3 separate regions of the Homo sapiens genome follow, and regions 1 and 3 are each linked to region 2. Evidence: fine-mapped expression QTL. A gene starts in region 2. Each other region holds a variant in brackets. All regions are shown on one strand. Distances are between the middles of the regions.

Evidence for each region. PIP is the estimated chance that this variant, and not a neighbour inherited with it, causes the effect.
Region 1: its variant is the best candidate, but not a certain one, in a credible set for the expression of CCNT1 in whole blood (INTERVAL, PIP 0.83).
Region 3: its variant is the best candidate, but not a certain one, in a credible set for the expression of CCNT1 in fibroblasts (GTEx, PIP 0.63).

What each region holds. Positions count from the first base shown.
Region 1 is chr12:48,627,425-48,634,963 of GRCh38, reverse strand. It overlaps the pseudogene OR11M1P. Among named protein-coding and RNA genes, the nearest start is that of SNORA2C, 23 kb to the left of the region's middle. The variant A/G (reference allele first, on the strand shown) is at 4,727.
Region 2 is chr12:48,712,676-48,720,214 of GRCh38, reverse strand. CCNT1 (cyclin T1) reads left to right here and starts at 3,508. Exons shown (of 9, transcript NM_001240.4): 1 at 3,508-3,700; 2 at 5,691-5,772. The coding sequence starts at 3,540. RefSeq lists enhancers at 2,754-2,993, 2,393-3,393, 3,464-3,743.
Region 3 is chr12:48,618,728-48,626,266 of GRCh38, reverse strand. No RefSeq gene overlaps it. Among named protein-coding and RNA genes, the nearest start is that of SNORA2C, 32 kb to the left of the region's middle. The variant C/T (reference allele first, on the strand shown) is at 3,750.

The sequences.
Region 1 (7,539 bases), 85 kb after region 2:
ATTCTGGGTGGGAATTTTAGATTCCCTCCCTGGGTTTGTAATGGGACAAAGGATAGGACCGTATCTAAATCCCCTTTCTAGGCAACTAACCATAAAGTAAGGGATCAGTAAACATATTTTAACCAAATGTAATGCAGATCACCAAAGGAGGTACAGAATCTGCATGCACACAACGAAGAATCTTGCTAATTAAGGGGGGTTAGGGTTCGTGGTGGGAGAGTAAAGAGGACTCTTTGGAGAAGTAGAGGAGTGAGGAAGAGTATTTGTCAGTGTCTTTGCTGTGTTATAAGCCACCCAAAAACTCAGTGGCTTACAACAGCATTTATTTTTCTTGCTCCTGGGTCTGGTGGATTGCTGATGGGTTGGGTTGGGGAGGAGACTCTACTTTAGGAGCCAGGATTTGGGTTGGGATCAGGTCTGTTCTAAATGTTTCATTCTGGGATGTAGGTAGATAGAGAGTGCAGCTCTCTTCTGGCAATCACAGAGCACAAGAAGCCAAATGACACCAGGCAAGCACATTTTTCATTTCAACTTAGTCATATCTGCTAACATTTCATTGGCTAAAGCAGGTTGCATGGCCAAGTTCAACCTTGATGTAGTGGGGAAATAATACTCTGTCCTATGTGTGGTCTGGAAGATCACACTGACGTAGGAGGTAAGGAATTGGGAATAATAATTCATTCTACCCAAGGAGGGGACAGAATTCTTTTTTTTTTTTTTTTTTTTAAGATGGAGTCTCACTCTATTGCCCAAGCTGGAGTGCAGTGGTGTGATCTTGGCTCACTGCAGCCTCTGCCTCCTGGGTTCAAGCAATTCTCCTGCCTCAGCCTCCTGAGTAGCTGGGATTATAGGCCCACAGCACCACGCCTGGCTAATTTTTGTGTTTTTAGTAGAGACGGGGTTTTGCCATGTTGGCCAGGCTGGTCTTGAACTCCTGATCTCTGGTGACCCACCCACCTTGGCCTCCTAAAGTGCTGGGATTACAGGCGTGAACCACCATGCCCAGTCCGGACAGGATTCCTGGATAGTTGTGAGCCACCTTGCTGCTTCCTGGAATGTGGAGATATAGAGAACTTCCTCTAGGAGATTTGGGAGATAATTAGCCCTAGTATAGAGCTGTGTAACACTAATGCTATAGTACAAGCTGGCCTCTCTTTATTTCCTCTTCACTTTATTTTCCTGTTCTTCCACTCCTTCCTTCTCCTACTGGGAACCCTCAGCTGGGACTTAACCATGGTGTGTTGCCAACAAGACAAGGAAAGTATTTGAGCCAGCAGTTGTAGCAGCAGCAGCGACAGCAACAGCAGCGACAGCAACAGCAGCAGAAATGATGAAATCCATCAGAGAAGGAGGCAGCTGCAGGAGCAGCAAGGCAGTGATAGTGCCAATTGGGGAATGATTTCTGTAACACGGAGGGTATGGCAAGGGTCAAATAAGATCTAGTGTCTGAAAGTGCTTTATAAACTGTTAAAAGACAATGAATCAGGAGATAAAATGAGAAACGCTTTTCATTTTAGTTTCAGCTGAGTCCTAAAGACAATAGACAGATGCCACATTCCAAAGTAAAACGTAAAGTGGCCAGGCATGGTGGCTCACATCTGTAATCTCAGCACTTTGGGAGGCCTAGGTGGGTGGATTGCTTGAGGTCAGGAGTTTGAGACCAGCTCGGCCAACGTGGTGAAACCCCATTTCTATTAAAAATACAAAAATTAGCCAGGTGTGGTGGTGTGCGCCTGTAATCCCAGCTACTCGGGAGGCTGAGACAGGAGAATTGCTTGAGCCTGGGAGGTAGAGGTTGCAGTGAGCTGAGATCGCGCCACTGCACTCCAGCCTGGGTGACAGAGAGCAAGACTCCATCTAAAAATAAATAAATAAAATAAAAAATAAATAAAATATATTTTAATAAAGAGAATGGTGGAGATGCAAAATGGAAAGAACCTGGGTTTCTGAATGTCTTTGTGGAATAAAGGAGCCTGTCTACCCATCTTAGACTATTGTGAGAGACAAATAAATGTCTAGCACCATATTTTTGGGACTTTCTTACAGCAGTTTAGTTATTTCCCTAAGCTCATCACCCTGATATTCTGCCAATCTTTCCCTGTCTGTAAATCAAACCTCTCCCACAATTTCCTTCTGTTTCCTCTTGAGTCTCCTTCTGGTGATGGAGAATAAGATTAACCCTCTCCAATAAATGAATTTTATAAGAGCTGGCATTTTGAGAGCTAGCATCTAGAATGCCATATTCAGCTGTCAATTTTAGCCCAATCTGGATGACCCTCAGGAATTTCTGAGACAATAATTTTCCTTAATCATCTTTCCAGAGGAGATATAGGAAACTTCAGTGGTGGGCTTGGAGAGAATGGGATATCCAGCTGTTTATATCATGTAGGAAAGGCTCCATCTTGACCCAGTCCTTAAGCATTCTGCTTGAGACAGGTGAACTTGAGTAACTTTTATTTTGGAGGCAGAGATGGGGGAAGATTCAGAACTTCAAAGAACCTTGAGAAATTACCCCATCTTCTGGGCTACCTTCTCCAAGAGCCATGTTTAAACAGTCTCACAGCTTACAGCTGGTCAGGTATTTAGACAAATCTTTGGCTTTGCAGTGTTTTACCCAGGCTGCCTTAAGGATAGAGAAATAAAGTATAGATCAGAGGCAGGGGCAGAAGTCTGAAAGGGGCTCAGCTGAGGGAAAGTTGGGCTTGCGGGCTGGAGCCAATTTATGCTGTTGGAGAGTCCCAGGTGAAGAGGATGCATGTGGGTGCTGCCATGATGCCTGGGATGAATGCATCACATGATTACTCTGCCTCATTTTCTCATCAGGGGAACATTCTCAACCCTCTCCCAAAGCCCATGGCAAATCCTGCAGCACAGATGCCACTAACATCAGTAGCCCAGATATTATCTGCCCCTCTCCCACCAAACCCCACTGGCAGAACAGTTGCTCTCTGCCCTTCACATTCCTCTTACCAGGCAGATATCACTTTAGGATCTTACACAGTCCTCTTGGCAGTTTGTCATCACCAATGTTATCATCAATAAACTCTGAAAGGACAAGTGGATGAGTGGGGAGGGAAATCTCTCTTTTTCTATTTTGAATTATTGATCATTTTTAGAGGGGAATTCCCAGAGGAAAGTGAATCCTGAGATTCAGAAATCCTTTCTCTCTGGAGCTCCTCTCTGGGTTTGCCTTCCATTTTGCCTGGGTTTTCTTGTTTTTGCTTAGACTCCTTCTCTGAGCACTGGTCCTTCCAGAAGGCATCTAGGACATGATGGACTAGGGAGAGCTTTTGTTTTCGGGAAGCTGCTCAGAATGTCTGGAGTGCTGGTATGTGGGATGATGTGTGTACTAGGAGCAGATAACATGTCTTGAAGGGTGGGAACCCATGAATGGGGAAGATGAAAAGGAGATTGTGAATCAGGGGGCTTAGCCAGGGGCCAGTCTTTCTTCCTTCTTTTTGTCAGGATGATCTCTGTGGGATCTTGTTTCAGTGTGAGGACTGTTTATTCCCCATATTCAGCTTCCCCAGCACAGGCTGACAGTCAGGTGATAGGGAGCAGTGCATTCAGTTTTGCACCTATTTTACCTGCTCCCACTTCATCCAGCCCTCAGAGGGATAGAGTCCTTACTGCTGCACATTAGGTTGCAGGCATTTTCTGAGGAATGCTTGTGGTCTTTGTATCAGAAGTTGTTCAGCTGGAAAATCCCGTTGTCACTACTGCCATCAGCAGTTTTTTCCATTAAAGGCCTGGGTGTTCAAATTACTCTCACACTGAACCAAGCAGATCCCTGTGTCAGAGAGAGCAAAAGGTATGGATAGAAAAGGGAGAGTGCTCCATGATGAGAGGTCATCCAATAGGCCATGGGAAAGATGAGACATAACTTATGCTGTACTAGTGCTATCTGAAATGAAAATCCATTTTTAAGACTGAGTTGAGGCCGGGTGCAGTGGCTCACCCCTGTAATCCCAGCACTTGGGGAGGCCAAGGCGGGCAGATCACCTGAGGTCAGGAGTTCGAGATCAGCCTGGCCATCATGGTGAAACCCCGTTTCTACTAAAAATACAAAAAAAAATTAGCCGGGTGTGATGGCAGGCGCCTGTAATCCCAGCCACTCGGGAGGGTGAGGCAGGGGAATGACTTGAACTCGAGAGGCAGAGGTTGCAGTGAGCCGGATGGTGCCATTGCACTCCAGCCTGGGCAATAAGAGTGAAACTCCATCTCAAAAAAAAAAAAAAAGAAAAGAAAAAAAAAAAGACTGAGTTGAAAAAACTATGAGATCCTCAATGTCAGAGATCATTTATAATTCATATGCACTCCCAGTCCTAAGCAATAATTAGCCCATGGAAAATATACAACAATTTATTAAATGCTTTTATTAATAAATTTAGAATTTTATTCCAAATAAAATAATAATTATAATTATAATAAATTTATTAATTTGGAATTTTATTCCAAATAAATCCAAAATTATTTGGTGTCATTTTATGGAATTAAAATTGGAATGACCAGTAATCAATCAATCACAGTCTGTTTCCCAATCAACCTTTCCAGCCTCATCTCCCAGCCAAATACTCACTTGTATATATTCACTTTTGTTCTATATCCCAAGGTACATGCAAGAGAAAAGGTGGAAAGGTAGCGGAGGAGAATCCTTGGAAGGCAGCACAGAAAAACCATCCTTGGAAGGTTTCTCTACATGAGAAAGAGTAGGTTTGGCATGGAG[A/G]AAAATGAAGAAAGATATTCAAGGGAAGTTGAAATAGTTTCATTTCTTGTAACCAATAAGATGGATGGCTGAGATTCTCAATCCCTCTTGTTACCCTCATCATCACTTCCCCTTCATTCTTACAATCCCAATCTAACTCTCTTGTGGCACTAGTAGAATAACCCTGATAAAAACTTAGCTGATGTTCACTTGATTTAGAACTTTTCTGATCAAGTAAGAATTTAGTAGGCTTCTTATCTATTGCATTTCTAGAAACAGTATGCCATAGGTCTGTGTGAGTCCGGCTATTCTGATTGCTGATTTGACTCTGCTGTCCATTGTGGCAACCATGTACACCTTGCCTTTGGAGGTTGAGTGCTGCCACTTGGCCTCTGCCATCTCAGGATGCAGTCACTCCCATTGAATGTAGGTTTCCCAATTCAGTGACTGCAGTCCTCACCGTAAGGTCTGGGCTACAGTGAAGAGAGATTACAGAGCTCTTCAAGGATGCCGGGGCTTCCCTATTTCTTAGTCATAGTGAAAAGTATGTCTTCTGGGCCCTCTCACATGGGTAAGTAGGTCTTAAGTAACAAATCCACTCTAATATTTCAATATCCTTTAGCCGTTGAATCCTTTCTCTACATTAAATCAAGGCAGATCCAGCATTTCTAATTCACTTACTGTATCCCACCTTTTGGTTCATGTTTCAGTCAACCAACTAAACAAACTGTTAGAATCCTTCCTAGTTCCCCAAGCTGCAACATTAAATGCAGAATTTCTGCTTTAGTGAGCCTTGAAGGGAGAGTGAAGGGAAGGAAACCCAGATATTGCAGCTCCCCGAAGCCCACTAGGATCAGCCAGGTGGTCTGGTTCCCACTGTCACAAATGTATATCAATACATTCGGCTTTATTCAACTTTACGTTCCTTCCATCATCATCCCACAATTTCAAGATCTATTTCCATGCATGTTCACTGGATTTCTGTCTGTATAAATTAGAAAACCCAAGTAATTCTTTTGGATTGTAGTGCATGTCCTCATGGGTCACACTTTGTGCTCACCTTTAGAGGCCTGCAGGGACTTGGGTCTAGCTATAGTTTTAGAACCAAAGAGGAGTGATGGGTATGGGTTCTGAGGAGAATCAGCATTGTCTTGCATGGGAACTGCCCCAGGGGAGGCAATTACAGTTTCTTCAGGCAATGTGGGATTAATTCCCTCAGACAGGGACAGAGGCTGCTGTCGCTGGGGTTGGGGAAGCTGCTACCACTGGGGATAGGGAGGCCAATTCCAATTGGAAAATACAGTTACCTCATTTTGGTAGACATCCATTTTCAATCCCACAGTCTCCATCTTTTTATTGCAGTGGTCTCTAGTCCATCAGACTTTGAGGAAGGGGCTAAGCTGAAATCAATCCAGGAAGAAGTCAAAAGCTGTCCTGTCCTCCTTAGTGAGTGTGTCCTGGGATGAGCTGTCCCCTGAGCCTATGCAGAGCCCCCTTCACCTCTTGGTTCTTGAGGCTGTGGATGATGGAGTTGACCATGGGAGTGAACACTGTGTAGAGGACAGAGAAGACCTTTAGAAGCAAGGGGACATGTGTTCTATTGGGGCCACATAGACCACAATGAGGGTGCCATAAAATACCCCAACTACGGTGAGGTGGGAGGAACAGGTGAAGAAGGCTTTCTGCCTCTCATGGCCTGAGGGTATTTGCAGTACAGCCCTCAATGAAGGCAGAGGATGCCACAATCAGTAGGAAGGCGGCCAGTGTCAGGAAGCCTGAGATGCTGACTTCAGCTCCCTACATGACTCCCACATCCCCGCAGAACTGCCTGACTACTGGAGCAAACTCACAGAAATAGTGGTCAATCTCCCTGCTGCCAGGACAGAGGTGCTGCCAGGGCCATAGTGAAGGCAGAGGAGAAGAAGCCACTGAACCAAGCACCAGCGGCCAGGCAGTGACAAAACCAGGTGCTCATCAGGGCAGGATAGTGAAGGGGGCAGCAGATGGCCAAGTAACAGTCATAGGACACGGCAGATAGCAGGAGGCACTCAGCTGCAGCCAGCGAGGAAAACACGTAGAACTGAGCCAGACAGCTGACTAGAGAGATGACTTCCTTCCCCTCCAAGAAACTCTGCAACAGCCATAGTATGACGTTGGAGGTATAGCCAATCTCCAGCAGGGAGAAGTGGCAGAGGAAGAAGTACATTGGTGGGTGCAGTGTCCGACTAGAGGCCACAGCCAGCATGATGAGGGCATTGCCCCCAACTGTCACCACATAGATGGCCAGGAAGAGAGTGAAGGGAAGGAAGCCCAGGTATTGCAGCTCCCCGAAGCCCACTAGGATCAGCCAGGTGGTCTGGTTCCCACTGTCACCACTGGACTGCTTCTTCTTCCAGGTCTGGGCCCAAGAGAAGAGAGGAAGGTAGTTAATATTAACAAAGATACTATTATGGCCACACTCCATGCTTGGCTTATCCATTTACTCATCACAGCACGCATCAGAGACAGGCCTTATTGTCTCCCAGATGTGGAAGAGAAACTAAGACCCGTTTGTTCAAGTCAATTATTCCAGGTCATTATGATGGAGTCATGATGTGAACCCAGGTTTGCCTGACTCTAAGGCTCCCGAATGGTCTACTGTTCTACAGTGCTTTCCCAACCTGCTCCACCCACATTTTTTTTTTTTTTTTGAGATAGGGTCTCACCCAGGCAGGAGTGTAGTGGTGCGATCACAGCTCACTACAGCCTCGACTTCCTGGGCTCAAGCCATCCTCCCACCTCAGCCTCCCAAGTAGCTGGGACTACAAGCACATGCCACCATGCCTGGCTACTTA
Region 2 (7,539 bases):
GCCTTGGCAGCTTCCACATGGTGTTGAGCCTGTGAGTGCACAGAAGTCAGGAATTGGGCTTTGGGAACCTCCGCCTAGATTTCAGAAGATGTATGGAAACATCTGGATGCCCAGGCAGAAGTTTGTTGCAGGGGCAGGGCACTCATGGAGAATCTCTGCTAGGGCAGTGTGGAAGAGAAATGTGGGGTTGGAGCCCCCACACAGAATCCCTACTGGGCCACTGCCTCATGGAGCTGTGAGAAGAGGGCCATGGTCCTCCGGATCCCAGAATGGTAGCTCCATTGACAGCTTGCACCATTTACCTGGAAAAGCCACAAACAGTCAATGCCAGCCTGGAAAGGGAGATAGGAGGGAGGCTGTACCCTTCAAAGCCACAGGGGCAGAGATGCCCAAGACCATGGGGACCCACCTCTTGGATCAGTGTGACCTGGATGTGAGACAGGGAGTCAAAGGGGATCATCTTGGAGTTTTAAGATTCGACTGCCCTGCTGGATTTCGGACTTGCATGGGGCCTGTAGCCCCTTTGTTTTGGCCAATTTCTCCCATTTGGCATGGTTGTATTTACCCAATGCCTGTACCACCATTGTATCTATGAAGTAACTAACTTGCTTTTGATTTTACAGGCTCATAGGTGGAAGGAACTTGCTTGTCTCGGATGAGACTTTGGACTGTGGACTTCTGAGTTAATGCTGAAATGAGTTGAGACTTTGGGGGACTGTGGGGAAGGCATGACTGTATTTTGAAATGTGAGGACATGAGATTTGGGAGGGGCTGGGGGCGGAATGATATGGTTTGGCACTGTGTCCCTACCCAAATCTCATCTTGAATTGCAACTCCCACAATTTCCACATATGGTAGGAGGAACCCGGTGGGAGGTGATTGAATTATGGGGGTGGGTCTTTCCTGTGCTGTTCTCATGATAGTGAATGAGTCTCATGAGATCTGATGGTTTTAAAAAAATGGGAGTTTGCCTGCACAAGCTCTCTGTTTGCCTGCTGTCATCCATGTAAGATGTCACTTGCTCCTCCTTGCCTTCCGCCATGATTGTGAGGCTTCCCCAGCCACGTGGAACTGTGAGTTCTCCATTAAACTTCTTTCCTTTGTAAATTGCCCAGTCTTGGGTTTGTCTTTATCAGCAGCGTGAAAATGGACTAACACAGCTGTTCAAAAGATAACATACATGACTACATAACTGAAAAAGTGCTTATTCTACTAAAAAATCTATTTTGTAAGTGCTTATTCTCTTAATAGTAAAGAGTCTGTGAGGGAAGAAATTTGAAATCCCAAGTTCTTTTACTTTATAACTAGAAGTAAGTCATTTAAATCTTCCTGAACCTCAATTTCTCCAGGGTAAAATGGAGCTAATACTAACTACAGGCAGTATATGGCAGAGGTGACCTGAATGGAAAGAAATACTTCTGAGAATGAATGACAATCAAGCATAGTAAGATCACCCATGCCTAGAAATGACAAAACCCAAAATATTATCAAAGCAAGATGAAGGATTCTAATATTATCCAAATCTATCTAAAATTACCCATATTTAATCAAGGTAAACTGAATATGGTTCCAGAAAAGCAGGAATACAGCTTGCGTGAATGGAAAGATCAATGGAATTAGATTTAAGATCTACACTTATTAGTGGTGTAGTGAGGGCAAACTCCCAAAGCCTCAGTTTCTGTATTGTGGGTGTTTTGCACATTTATCTGACAAAGATTTATGGACTATTTACTAGGGCCAGGGCTTTACTAGGTAAGTGCCATACAAAAATGAAGGCATTGCTCTTGCCTTCAATTTCAATACAATGTAACAAATATTATAACAATAAGGGCTACTGAATATTTTCTAAGTACTAGGTACTATTATAAATACTTTTTACTCATTAAATCTTTACTCCCTTTCACTATCTAAAACATAGGTATTATCACAGAAAAGAGGCATAGAGAAGTTAACTATCTTGCCCAGCACCAAACAGTTATCAGAGGCTGGAGCTGGGATGTATCTTTTTTTTTTTTTTTTTTTTTGAGAAGGAGTCTCGCAATGTTGCCCAGGCTGGAGTGCAGTGGCGCGATTTCGGCCCACTGCAACTTCTGCCTCCCGGGTTCAAATGATTCTCCTGCCTCAGCCTCCCGAGTAGCTGGGAGTACAGGCGTGCGCCACCACGCCTGGCTAATTTTTGTATTTTCAGTAGAGATGAGGTTTCACCATGTTGGCCAGGCTGGTCTCGAACTCCCGACTTCAGGTGATCCACCCGCCTTGGCCTCCCAAAGTGCTGGGATTATAGGCTTGAGCCACCGCGCCCGGCAAAGGAGCTGGGAAATATTTTGACAGAGGGCAAGAACTTGCTAATCTGTGCAAGTGAGGGGTAGTGGTGGAGGCTTTCCACACTCAAGGGGCAGTTTTAGTTCACCCATTCGCAAACGTACTTAAAAATTACCTCTTAGAGTTGTGCTGAATAAATGAAACAGTATATTTAAGTCAGTATTGTGCCTGGGACATGTAAGCTCTTAATTAATGTTATTAATTTCATTTTATTCCTTTAAGTTGGATCACTGGCGAACAACGTGAGAATGTTTTCATGCCTTTGGCTACACATTAAAGCGACCTCTCCAAATGGGTTGTCGCATTTTACATTGCTACCAACAATGTAACAGCCTTCTAGTTGCTTTATGCTCCGATATACGAAAGAGCCCCACCATTTGATTCTGTTTTTCAGTTTCTGACAGCCTCACCTACTTTCTCTTTCAAGTTCATCTGCCACATTTTTACTTATTTTATTTTTTTGAGACGGAGTCTCGCTTTCTCACCCAGGCTGGAGGCTGGGGTGCAGTGGCGTGATCTCGGCTCACTGCGATCTCCGCCTCCCGGGTTCAAGCGATTCTCCTGCCTCAGCTTCCCGAGTAGCTGGGACTACAGGCGCGCGACACCACGCCGGCTAATTTTGTATTTTTAGTAGAGACGGGGGTTTCACCATATTGGCCAGGCTGGTCTCGAACTCCTGACCTCGTGATCCGCCCGCTTCGGGCTCCCAAAGTGCTGGGATTACAGGCGTGAACCACCGCGCCCGGCCCATCTGCCCCATTTTACATCACCACTGCCGTCACAAACAAAGTTCTCGTAAGAACCGCCAAGCGGCGCGTGGGCGGCCGCCCCATCCCACTATAATTGCGGCCTCGCAGCCTGACCCGGGGCGCCAACGCTCAATCCGGTTCTCGCGGGAAGATACACGGTTTTTAAGAAAGAACTTCTAACCCCACTCCACCGCCCAACGGTCACGTGACGCGCCTGCGTCCTCGCCTCAAGGTTTTTTCTGGTCGCATATTGGCTGTTAACTCGGCTACGGGGTGTAGCGAGGTGCATTCCGGAAGTAGGTCCTTTGACTTTTGCTTCCTCTACGGAGGCAAGTAACAACCCGGCGGTCGACGCTTAGCGGAAGTTCGTCAAGTCGCAGTTGCCCCCGCACAGCGGATGTGGGTCGCCTCTTAGGTGACGCTGGGAAGTGCCTGCAGCCTTCGCCGCTGCCTTCTGGTTGAAGCACTATGGAGGGAGAGAGGAAGAACAACAACAAACGGTGGTATTTCACTCGAGAACAGCTGGAAAATAGCCCATCCCGTCGTTTTGGCGTGGACCCAGATAAAGAACTTTCTTATCGCCAGCAGGCGGCCAATCTGCTTCAGGACATGGGGCAGCGTCTTAACGTGTATCCTTGTGGCCTAGGCCTTCGGCCTTGGAGTTGGTCCCGCCATGCTCTGGCGTCCGGGTCTCAGGCTCTGTGGGGGGGACGAAAGTGGGGAAGAAGGTGGGCAGAAGCTGGATGTCTAGTTGGGAGAGCCCACGATGGGGCGGGCTGAAACTCAGTTAGCGCTAGGGAAGCGAGGCAGAGTTGATTTCCCGCTCGCTCACCCGTGCCGCCAGCCTTGCTGGGAATTCGTATCCTTCCCGGCTTTGTGTTTTAACCAGCCCTTCCAACTCTGTCTTCATTGTGTTCTGATCTGCTCTGGTGACGTTAAGATTCTCATTTTCCGCTGTGCCCTAGGGGTCTAGGTCTGGCAGAGGTTTCTCTGTTGACGGCTGCCTCCCAAACCTAGTGTGTAAATTTCGAGAAATTCAGTACCTGAAAGTGTTATAAAGGGTGGACTAGAATTAATGCCTCAGCCTTGGTCCAAAATCCATTCCTCATCTACTAGCTGTTTAAGTGACCTCTCAAATTTTTGGCCGTCTTGTCTATAAAATGGGATAATACCTCTTGTGTTTGATTCTGTGTCCAGCACAGTGCTTTGCATTCAGATGCTCAGTTAGTAGCTACTGTTTTATAGAATTTCAGAGGAAAGATGTTAGTTTACGTTTGTAGGGGATACCCACGAATCTAATGTTTTAAATAGTTTACAAAATACCGGGTCCTTAACTTACTTAGAGTGATGATATGTATTTCATTTTCAAAAATGAGGTAACGGCTGGATGCGGTGGCTCACGCCTGTAATCTCTGCACTTTGGGAGGCCGAGGCGGGTGGATCACCTGAGGTCAGGAGTTCGAGACCAGCCTGGCCAACATGATTAAACCCCTGTCTCTACTAAAAATACAAAAAATTACCCCGGCGTAGTGGCGGGCAGCTGTAATCCCAGCTAGTCAGGAGGCCGACGCAGGAAAATCGCTTGAACCCGGGAGGCGGAGGTTGCAGTTAGCCGAGATGGCGCCACTGCACTCCAGCTTGGGCAACAATAGTGAAACTCCGTCTCAGAAAAAAAAAATTAAAAAAAAAATGAGGTAACCTCTCCCACATATTTTTGTTTGTTAGGAAATACACTTATTTTATGGTGGAGAAAACTAGTATAGTTTTAAATTTCTTTCCACTCTGCGTGTGAAAATTTTCTTGGGTGCAGCTTCTATTTAAATGTGTGGCTGACAGTAATGTGTGTATCTTAAGGGTGTGTTCATCTCAAAATGGGTGTCTGTTTTATCGCCAGTTTGTTTCCTGCTGATGTCCAGGTTTGTTTCCTAAGCATCCTGTCAGTATGGAGTTAAATCTTTTTGTTCGAAATTCTATTTCAGTGCATCCTTAAAATGCTTTCCTTTTTGTATGTGTGTTGTCATTAAGGTTGTCAGCCAGGCGCGGTGGCTCGCGCCTGTAATACCAGCACTTTCGGAGGCCAAGGCAGGTCGATCAGTTGAGGCCAGGAGTTCAAGACCAGCCTGGCCAACATGGTGAAACCATGTCTCTACTAAAAATACAAAAAGTAGCCAGGTCTGTTGGTGGGCGCCTGTAATCTCAGCTACTGGGGAAGCTGAGGCAGGAGAATCGCTTGAATTTGGGAGGTAGAGGTTTCAGTGGGCCAAGATGGTGCCACCGCACTCCAGTGTGGGCGACAGAGTGTGAGCCACCGCGCCTGGCCGCCTTATATAGTTTTTAAAAAAATCTGTCTAGATTCATACATCCTGAGATGTTTGTTTATTCATTCAGTACATTTATATTAAATATTTGTTATGTGTAAGGCATTGTGCTAAGTGTCAGTTGGCGATTAATAATTTGGTGAAAGAAAACAGACATATTCTTTGATTTGGAGAGATAAGTATGATTTTCATTTAGTAGTATCTACTTGCTTGGCCATTTCATCCTTTTGGGAGGGAGATAGAGGTTATCTTTTCCAGAATTATACCTGCCTGTTTTTGGATCTTAACTTGAACACTTCAGCTCACAATTGACTATCAACACTGCTATAGTATACATGCATCGATTCTACATGATTCAGTCCTTCACACAGTTCCCTGGAAATGTAAGTATAATTTTTTTATATGATATAATCCTTTTGTGATTGATTCCACCTACCTATTCCATTTGTGGTTGGTCTTTGCTACTGAACTGTAACTTGAACTTTAGAATTTAGGGTTGATCACTTCCATTATGTGCTGTGTTGCTGTTCTGAATCCAGCTTTTCAGTTTTCCTGTTAAGTGTCTACTTGTCTAGTGGATTTAGTATATCCATGTCGATTCTCTAAAGAAGTAGATTAGGCCGGGTGCAGTGGCTCACAACTGTAATCCCAGCACTTTGAGAGACTGAGATGGGAGGATCACTTGAGCCCAGGAGTTCAAAACCAGCCTGGGCAACATAATGAGACCTCATTTCTACAAAATATCAAAAACAAAAACAAAAAGCAAGTAGCTGGGTGTTGTGGTATGCATCTGTGGTCTCAGCTACTCCAGCAGCTGGCAAGAGGATTGCTTGAACTCAGGGAGTTGAGGATGCAGTGAGCCAAGATTGAGTCGCTTCACTCCAGCCTGGGCATCAGAGTGAGACCCTGTCTTCAAAAAAAACCCCAAAAAACAGATTATCAGACATCTAAAGTCAACATTTTGGGGTTGGAGGAGTAACATTAAAGGGGAAATCATGTGGAATTTAGGTATAGCTTTCTTTTTCTTGCTGGGGTAGGGAGACAGGCAGGGTCTTGCCCTGTTGTCCATGGTGGAATGCAGTGATTTGATTATGGCTCATTGCAGCCTTAACCTTCTGGGCTCAAGCAGTCCTCCTGCCGTAGCCTCCCAAGTAACTGGGACCACAGGCTTGCCAACATATCTGGTAATTTTTAAAATTTTTTTTGTGAAGATGGGGTCTCCCTGTGTTGTCCAGCCTGGTCTCAAACTCCAGGGTTCAAGGGATCCTTCCGCCTCCGCCTTCTAAAATGTTGGGATTACAGTCATGAGCCGCCATTCCTGGCATTAATTTTGAAGTAGTTTATAAAATATGGTCACAGCAAAAGAAGTAAATGTAAGTTACTTAGATTTTCCAAAAGCCTTTGATAAAATTCCAGTCAGCAGTTGGAGGGGAAAGCACATTATGTAATAATAACTGGGAAAATGACTTTTAAGAACATGAAAAATAGGCTATGCATGGTGGCTCATTCTTATGTATAATCACAGCACCTTGGGAGGTTCAGGTGGGAGGACTGATTGAGCCCAGGAGTTGGAGACCAGCCTGGGCAACACGGTGAGACCCCGTTTCTACAAAAAAAAAAAAAAAGGTAAAAAAAATTTTACAAAGAACAGGAAGAATAAAATTATACTAATAAAGAAATTTTATTTTTTTGTACAGAATTATAAATAGTGATCTTTTCAGTGTAGCTATTTGAAATGGTCCTATTTAACATTATTATAAATGACTTGGAATTGAATGCATAGTGATATCCCAGTTCTAGGAAGGACTGTATTTACTTAATAAAACGCCAAGGTAATAGGGATAAACTTGATGAGTACTTCATATGGATTGATTTTTTTTTTTTTGAGATGGAGTTTCGCTCTTGTTGCCCAGGATGGAGTGCAATGGCACGATCTTGGCCCTTTGCAACCTCCGCCTCGCAGATTCAAGCAATCCTCTTTCCTCAGCCTCCCAAGTAGCTGGGATTACATGCATGTGCCACCACACCTGGCTAATTTTTGTATTTTTAGTAGAGACGAGGTTTCACCACGTTGGCCAGGCTGGTTTTGAACTCCTGACCTCAGGTGATCTGCCCGCCTCAGCCTCCCAAAGTGTTGGGATTACAGGTGT
Region 3 (7,539 bases), 94 kb after region 2:
CTTTCATATGTATTTGAACATATTCTGTCTTCTATATACTAATGATTTCTTAAAGAGCCAAGGAGTGACTTGAATTGAGAGTGAAATAGGACTCTGGGTTTAGCAGAAAGAGGGAGCAAAGGAAGAAACTAGTTAAACTAACCAAATCAACCAACCAGTCAACTGACCCGAAACTTCTGAAGTCTACACTCTGAGCCAATGCTTATGATTATAAAGTTAGAAGCACTGCCCTTGCCAACCAATGAATTTGACCTTGGTTCCTGGTAAAATTCCTAAATAGATGCTATGTAGAATAGTTGGAAGTCCCATAAGGGATCACCAGGATCTTTGTAATGCTGAACCTAATGTAAAACCTCATAATAATATCTTTTATTGACAGTACTAATAATTTAACAATCAGGAGAAAGGAGCAGAGAAAGGGCATGTTAATCTCAGTAAAGCTTCATAAAAAGATGATGACTGTGTGCTTAGAGATAACGCTTTTTTAGCCTGGTGCAGTGGCTCACGCCTGTAATCCCACCACTTTGGGAGGCCGAGGCAGGCGGATCACGAGGTCAGGAGTTCAAGACCAGTCTGACCAACATAGTGAAACCCTGTCTCTACTAAAAATACACAAAAAATTAACCAGGTGTGGTGGTGTGCGCCTGTAATCCCAGCTACTCAGGAGGCTGAGGCAGGAGAATGGCGTGAACCTGGGAGGCGGAGGTTGCAGTGAGCCAAGATCGTGCCAATGCACTCCAGCCTGGGCGACAGAACGAGACTCTGTCTCAAAAAAGAAAAAAAGAAAAAAGATAACGCTTTTAGTTTGGCTACCATACACCAAAATTATTCATTAATGACTAAAAATCTGGAGAAATCTGTCTAGTGAAAAGGAGAATGTGTTGTAGATCTTATCTTCGTCACCTATTTTAGCAATGACTTCAATAGGCATAGTAAGCATGCATGGCTCATCAAACTTCAGATGATATGAAACAAAGAGGGAAAATCAATATTGTAAGCAACAATTATAATTCAAAATAATCTTGCCTTTTGGAATGCCAAACTAAAAACAAGACGGAATTTAACAGAGGCACATATAAAATCTGCATGTAGATTTTAACAACCGGTTACACAAGCATAGGAAGGGTAAGACCCAACTTAGTAGCCAATTATGTGAAAATAATTTGGGCTTTTTGTTGACTATCATGAATTTTTTCTTTTTTTTTTTTTTTGAGATGGATTCTGGCTCTGTCGCCCAGGCTAGAGTGCAGGGTTATGATTTCAGCTCACTGCAACCTCCACCTCCCAGGCTCAACTGATTCTCCTGCCTCAGCCTCCCAAGCAGCTGGAACTGCAGGTGCCCAACACCGAGCCCGGCTACTTTTTTGTATTTTCAGTAGAGACGGGGTTTCACCGTGTTAGCCAGGATGGTCTCCATCTCCTGACCTCGTGATCTGCCCGCCTCGGCCTTCCAGAGTGCTGGGATTACAGGCGTGAGCCACCGCACCCGGCCTGAGTATCATGAATTAGGGCTTGAAAACTGTGAAATACAAGGAATAGATGAAGAATGTAGAGAATCTGGAAAAGACAAAATGAATAGAAGAATATGATAACTGTTTTCAAATATTTGAGAGACTCTTATAAAGAAGAGGAATTACATTTAATTCACAGAACAAGGACCAAGGGTGTGGTGGTGCTGGAAAACCCATGATTACTCATCTGTGCTGGCTTCCTAGAGGTGATTCTTAAGGGGTTAACCATTGTTATTTACTGCATTTTTTGGGGGGTTTGAAAATAAGATGAGGCTCGGGGGACAGGGTCAGTGTGGTGAAGTGGAATTTCTTCCTAGAGCCTCCAGAAGTTTGTTGGCAAATATGGGCCTCATCCACAGGAACCTCCCAGAGCAAACAAACAAACAAAAATGATAAACTCTCTTCTGCATGTTTAGGTTGGGTCAGTGGTGGTCCTCTCTGTAGGCAGAGAGCAGGGTTGACCCATATGAACGCCAGATACTCAAGCTCAGTGAAGATGGGGGCGGACCTGCTTTGGGCTTGGAGTCAACTTCTCTCCTGGACGTCTTTACCCCTAGACTAAATTCTTCTGCCACCTGACAGCTCTGTGGACTTTCTGCTTCTCTCCTGTGGAGTCTCCACATGTTATTGACTCCCTACACCCTAGGGTGCTCACAGAAGACAGTTGTCCCTATTCCGTATGTGCTGCTATGGATGCAACTGCCTTTTCTAGAGGAGGAGAGCGCCCCTCCCTTGTGCAGGTTGGAGAAGAGCCTCCTTGGAGAGGAGATGTAGTTTGGAGCCAACTGGAGCAGCTGCATCTATCTTTTGGTTCCAGGGAAATGTTCAGGTCTACAAGGGACCACATCCATGTGTTTCATTCAAACCTAATTACCTCCCCCTTATGAGTGGGGAAAGACTGGCAAGACATAAGAATAACCATAATAGCCAAATGCTGTGGCTCATGCCTATAACCCCAGCACTTTGGGAGGCTGAAGAGGGAGGATCACTTGAGCCAAAAAGTTCAAGACCAGCCTGGGAAACATAGTAAGACCCCATCTCTACAAAAAAAAAAAAAAAAAAAAAAAATCAGCCAGTCATGGTGGCATATGCCTGTAGTCCCAGCTACTCTGGAGCCTGTGGTGGGAGCTTCGCTTGAGCCCAGGAGGTTGAGGATGCAGTGAGCCATAATTGCACCACTGCACTCCAGCCTGGGTGACCAAAAAGAAAATAGCCACAATGAAAGCCAGCGTTTATGGAATACTTTATAATTCATAAAGCAAATATTAACTGATTAGCTAATTTAATAAATATTCAATTCTCAGAATGAGCCCCAAGGTGAAATGTATGTTATAACTTGTTCTTGCAGCATTGGGATGAGCTATCAAGAGTGTTGAGAGGTGAAGCCAGCTGGATTTCTGGGTCGAGTCGGGACTTGGAGAACTTTTCTAACAAGAGGATTGTAAAATGCACCAATCAGCGCTCTGTAGCTAGGATTGTAAAACGCACCAATCAGCACTCTGTGGCTAGCTAGAGGTTTGTAAAATGTGCCAGTCAGCACTCTGTAAAAACGCACCAATCAGCGCTCTGTGTCTAGCTAAAGGATTGTAAATGCACCAATCAGCACTCTGTGTCTAGCTAAAGGATTGTAAATGCACCAATCAGCACTCTGTGAAATGGACCAATCAGCACTCTGTAAAATGGACCAGTCAGCAGGACATGGGAGAGGCCAAATAAGGGAATAAAAGCTGGCCACCCCAGCCAGCACCGGCAACCCACTCAGGTCCCTTTCCACGCTGTGGAAGCTTTGTTCTTTCACTCTTCACAATAAATCTTGCTGCTGCTCACTCTTTGTGTCTGCACCACCTTTAAGAGCTGTAACACTCGCTGCAAAGGTCCGCGGGTTCATTCTTGAAGTCAGCGAGACCACAGACCCACCAGAAGGAAGAAACTCCAGACACATCTGAAGGAACAAACTCTGGACACACCATCTTTAAGAGCTGTAACACTCACTGTGAAGGTCTGCGGCTTCATTCTTGAAGTCAGCAAGACCAAAAGCCTGCTGGAAGGAACCAACTCTGGACACAGTGTGACCTCTAAGGGCTAAATCAACAGTCTTTCTACCCTGGCCTGGGTTAGGACCCTGGGGTCCCGCTTTGATCTCTTAGCAGGGAGGAGGCAAGAAGAAACTGATATATAACTCTGTAGGTATTCTGTCCTGTTTAGTTGGATAGTTTAACATCACAGATTAACATAAAA[C/T]CAGGTCAGATCCCTTCAAGATAATGGAGACAGACTAAAATGCAGCTGAATGACAAATGTAAATAGGAAATCCCACTGCAGTACTATAGCACCGAGTTTCTTCCATAGCAAGCAGAGAGCAGATCTGGGCCAGGAGGAGGACAGCACAGGCTCTGGGCTGGGGCTGAGATTTTCTAGGAACAGACTGGCATGGCTCTTCCTGGAAAAAACTGGACAAGTGTGTGACATTGGCAGAAGAGAGGCAGAGTAGAGAGTCTTAGGTGTAGAAAAGGTGACTCAGTCTCAAACAAAGTCTCCATAAAGCTTATAATACCTCAATATGAGCAGTAAAACTTCCTGGTCAGTCCTTCAGGATAAACTAGTTTCAAAATGTACTTGTAGATAACTACATGAACTAGTATTCTCAATAAGGCTGTTAGCTAAATCCAGTAAGATGTTGGACGATATGTAATAAAAATAAAGTTTGGCTTTGGAATAACTGATCATCCTAAGCCATCCTTCATGAAGATAATTGGAAAACCAAGCCAACTGTCTTTCAAGACTAATCTTAGATCATGAAAAAAAAAATGTCAACAATACATACACATTATAATAACTCTGCTATTAAAAATTTATTTCTAGTTTTTAATGCACTTTTTATATAGCTATAATTATTATCATATGTACAATTTGAATCCTGATGCTTCACCTAACATTTTATTATAAGCATGTTATATATCCCACATTTAAAATAATAATATAATATTCATTATGTAGCTGTAGCACAATTTGCCTAACCATTTTTTTCAGGGAATCTTTGGGTTGGGAGGGACTGTAAGCTATATATAGGCCAACATTTCACTAAGAGGGGAGGTTATTTATTCTCTTTGTATGTATTTCAACTGAAAAGAAGACAGTGTCTTTTTAGGGTATCTCAGTGTTTCAACAAATTAAAAATTTTAAAACATTTATTTAACATTAGTATTTTTGAGCAATGCATCATTATTGCATACATTTATGGGATACACTATGATATATGTATAAATGTGGCAGGATTAAATCAAGCTAATTAACATATCCATCACCTCACTTACCTATCATTTTTTTTTATGGTGAAGCATTTGAAATTTATGCCCTATTTTGAAATAAATAACACATTATTATTGACCATATTCACGCCACTGTTGCAATAGATCCTAAGACCTATTCTTCCTACCTGAAACTTTGTACCCTTTGATCAACAACTCCCCATTCCCTCCATCTCCACCCCTTTCCCCAAACTCTGGTAACCATCCTTTTAGTTTCTACGTCTGTGAGATCAACTTTATTAGATTTTACATATAAGTGAGATCATGAAGTATTTGTCTTTTTGTGCCTGGCTTATTTCACTTAGCATAATGTCCTACAGATTTATCAACACTGTTGCAAATGATAGGATGTCCCCCCTTTTAAGGCTGAATAGTATTCCATTGTGTATATATGTTACATTTTCTTTATCCATTCACCTGTTGATGGACACTTAGGTTGTTTTCATATCTTGACTGTTGGGAATAATGTTGCCATGAACAGGAGGGCACAGCTATTCCTTTGACATATTTGTTTCAGTTCCTTTGGATATATATCCAGAAGTGGGATTAATGAGTTGTATGGTAATTCTATTTTAGTTTTTTGAGGAACCTCCATATCATTTTTCATAATGGCTTTACTAATTTGCATTCCCACCATCAATATATATGAGTTCCCTTTTCTCCACATCCTCTCCAACACTTGTTATCTTTCATCTTTTTGATAAAAGTCATTCTAACAGGTATGAAGTGATATCTCATTGTGGTTTTAATTTGCGTTTCCCTAATAATTAGTAACGCTGAGCAGTTTTTCATGTATTTATTGGTCATTTATATGACTTTTGAGAAATGTCTGTTCAGGTCCTTAGCCCATTTTTTAATTGGGTTAACTTATAAATAAACGTTTTGGAGCTCCACACATGTTAGGCATTATTGGATGATCAAGACATAGGATCTGCCTGCAGATTAACTATGGTACAGTATGGAATATGTGACAACTGCTACAAAAGAGCTGCATAGTTTATTGAGAAGGGATTAAGGGAAGTTAATGGAGAAAGTGGAATATGCACTAGAATGTAAAACAGTAGAGGTTTTAGAAAGTTAAAAATGAGGGGGCTGGGCATGGTGGCTCAAGCCTGTAATCCCAGCACTTTAGGAGGCCAAGGCGGGTGGATCAGAAGGTCAGGAGATCAAGATCATCCTGGCCAACATGGTGAAACCCTGCCTCTACTAAAAATAGAAAAATTAGCTGGGCTTGTTGGTGGGCGCCTGTAATCCCAGCTACTCAGGAGGCTGAAGCAGAAGAATCGCTTGAACCCGGGAGGCAGAGGTTGTAGTGAGCCAAGATTGTGCCACTGCATTCCAGCTTGGGCGACAGAGTGAGACACCATCTCAAAAAAAAAAAAGAAAGTTAAAAATGAGGGTAAGGTTTTCAGCTTCCACCCATGACGGAGTGACTGGTACCAGTCTAGTCCTCCTGATGTAAACAACTACAAAATGGACAACACATAAAATATCTGTTTCCAGCTACTGGAAAACATATAGCACAGAACCTTAATTCCTTAGAGAAGGGAAGTCCTACCATCACATTAGTTTTTCTGTCTTGACTCACTTTCCAGACCTGGAATCCAGGAGGGCCTAAGCTGAGGAGACAGAGATCAGAGTTTGGAGAGGCAGAGATTGTTTAAATTTGTAGGGCAGAAGAGGAGGGAGGTATAGTGAGAAAGAATTTCAGAAACCTATGTAGGAATCTCATGAGACTTTGGCTGAATATTACTAGGAGCTGTAAGTTAAGTAACCACTAGAACTCATACAGAATGGGAGATGTTAGAGCTCCAACCATTCAGGCTGGAGAGATCTCATTGAAAACTGGGGGTATGCAGCAGATATCTCAGAAAGGTCACACCTTAGGTATAGGTATAAATCAGTCGAAGAATAAAAGCTAATCTAGACCTATTCGAACAAAACTTAAAAACAAAGCTTGAAAAGATTAAACTGAACCTTAAGTATCTTAACTGTCTACTAGAACAAGGCCAAGTGGATCACAAGGTCAGGAGTTTGAGACCAGCCTGACCAATATGGTGAAACACCCTCTCTAGTAAAAATACAAAAATTAGCCGGGCGTGGTGGTGGGCGCCTGTAATCCCAGCTAGTCAGGAGGCTGAGGCAGGAGAATCGCTTGAACCTGGGAGGCGGAAGTTGCAGTGAGCCGAGATCGCGCCACTGCACTCCAGCCTGAGCGACAGAGGATCCATCTCAAAAAAAAAAAAAAAACAAAAAACAACAAAAAAAAAAACCCAAAATCCAGACACGCAACAACAGGATATCCATAATGTCCAGCCTCTAATAGAACGATTAGTAGAAATACAAAGAAGCAGATAAATGTGACCACTAACCAGAGAAAAATGATAAAAGACATGAGCAAGATGGCAGAATAAGAAATTCCAGACCCTCTTTCTTCCATGAGAACATGAACTTAACAATATATAAACCTGTTTGAAGAATCCAGAAATCAGTTAATAGGTTCTTGCCCCTCAGTCGAGTGCGAAGGCAACCCTATCAAAACTTAGCAGGAAAATTTATGACATTCACTCACCCTTCCCTCTGGCACGGCATGACATAATCTGAAGGATACCTCCAACTCTCCACTTCTTCCTGGGAAGGGAAAGGAGTGAAATGTGCACCCAACATTCTGACTTATGAAGATGCTGTTGAGGGAGCTGCCCAAATTTAAGCACTGACAGGAA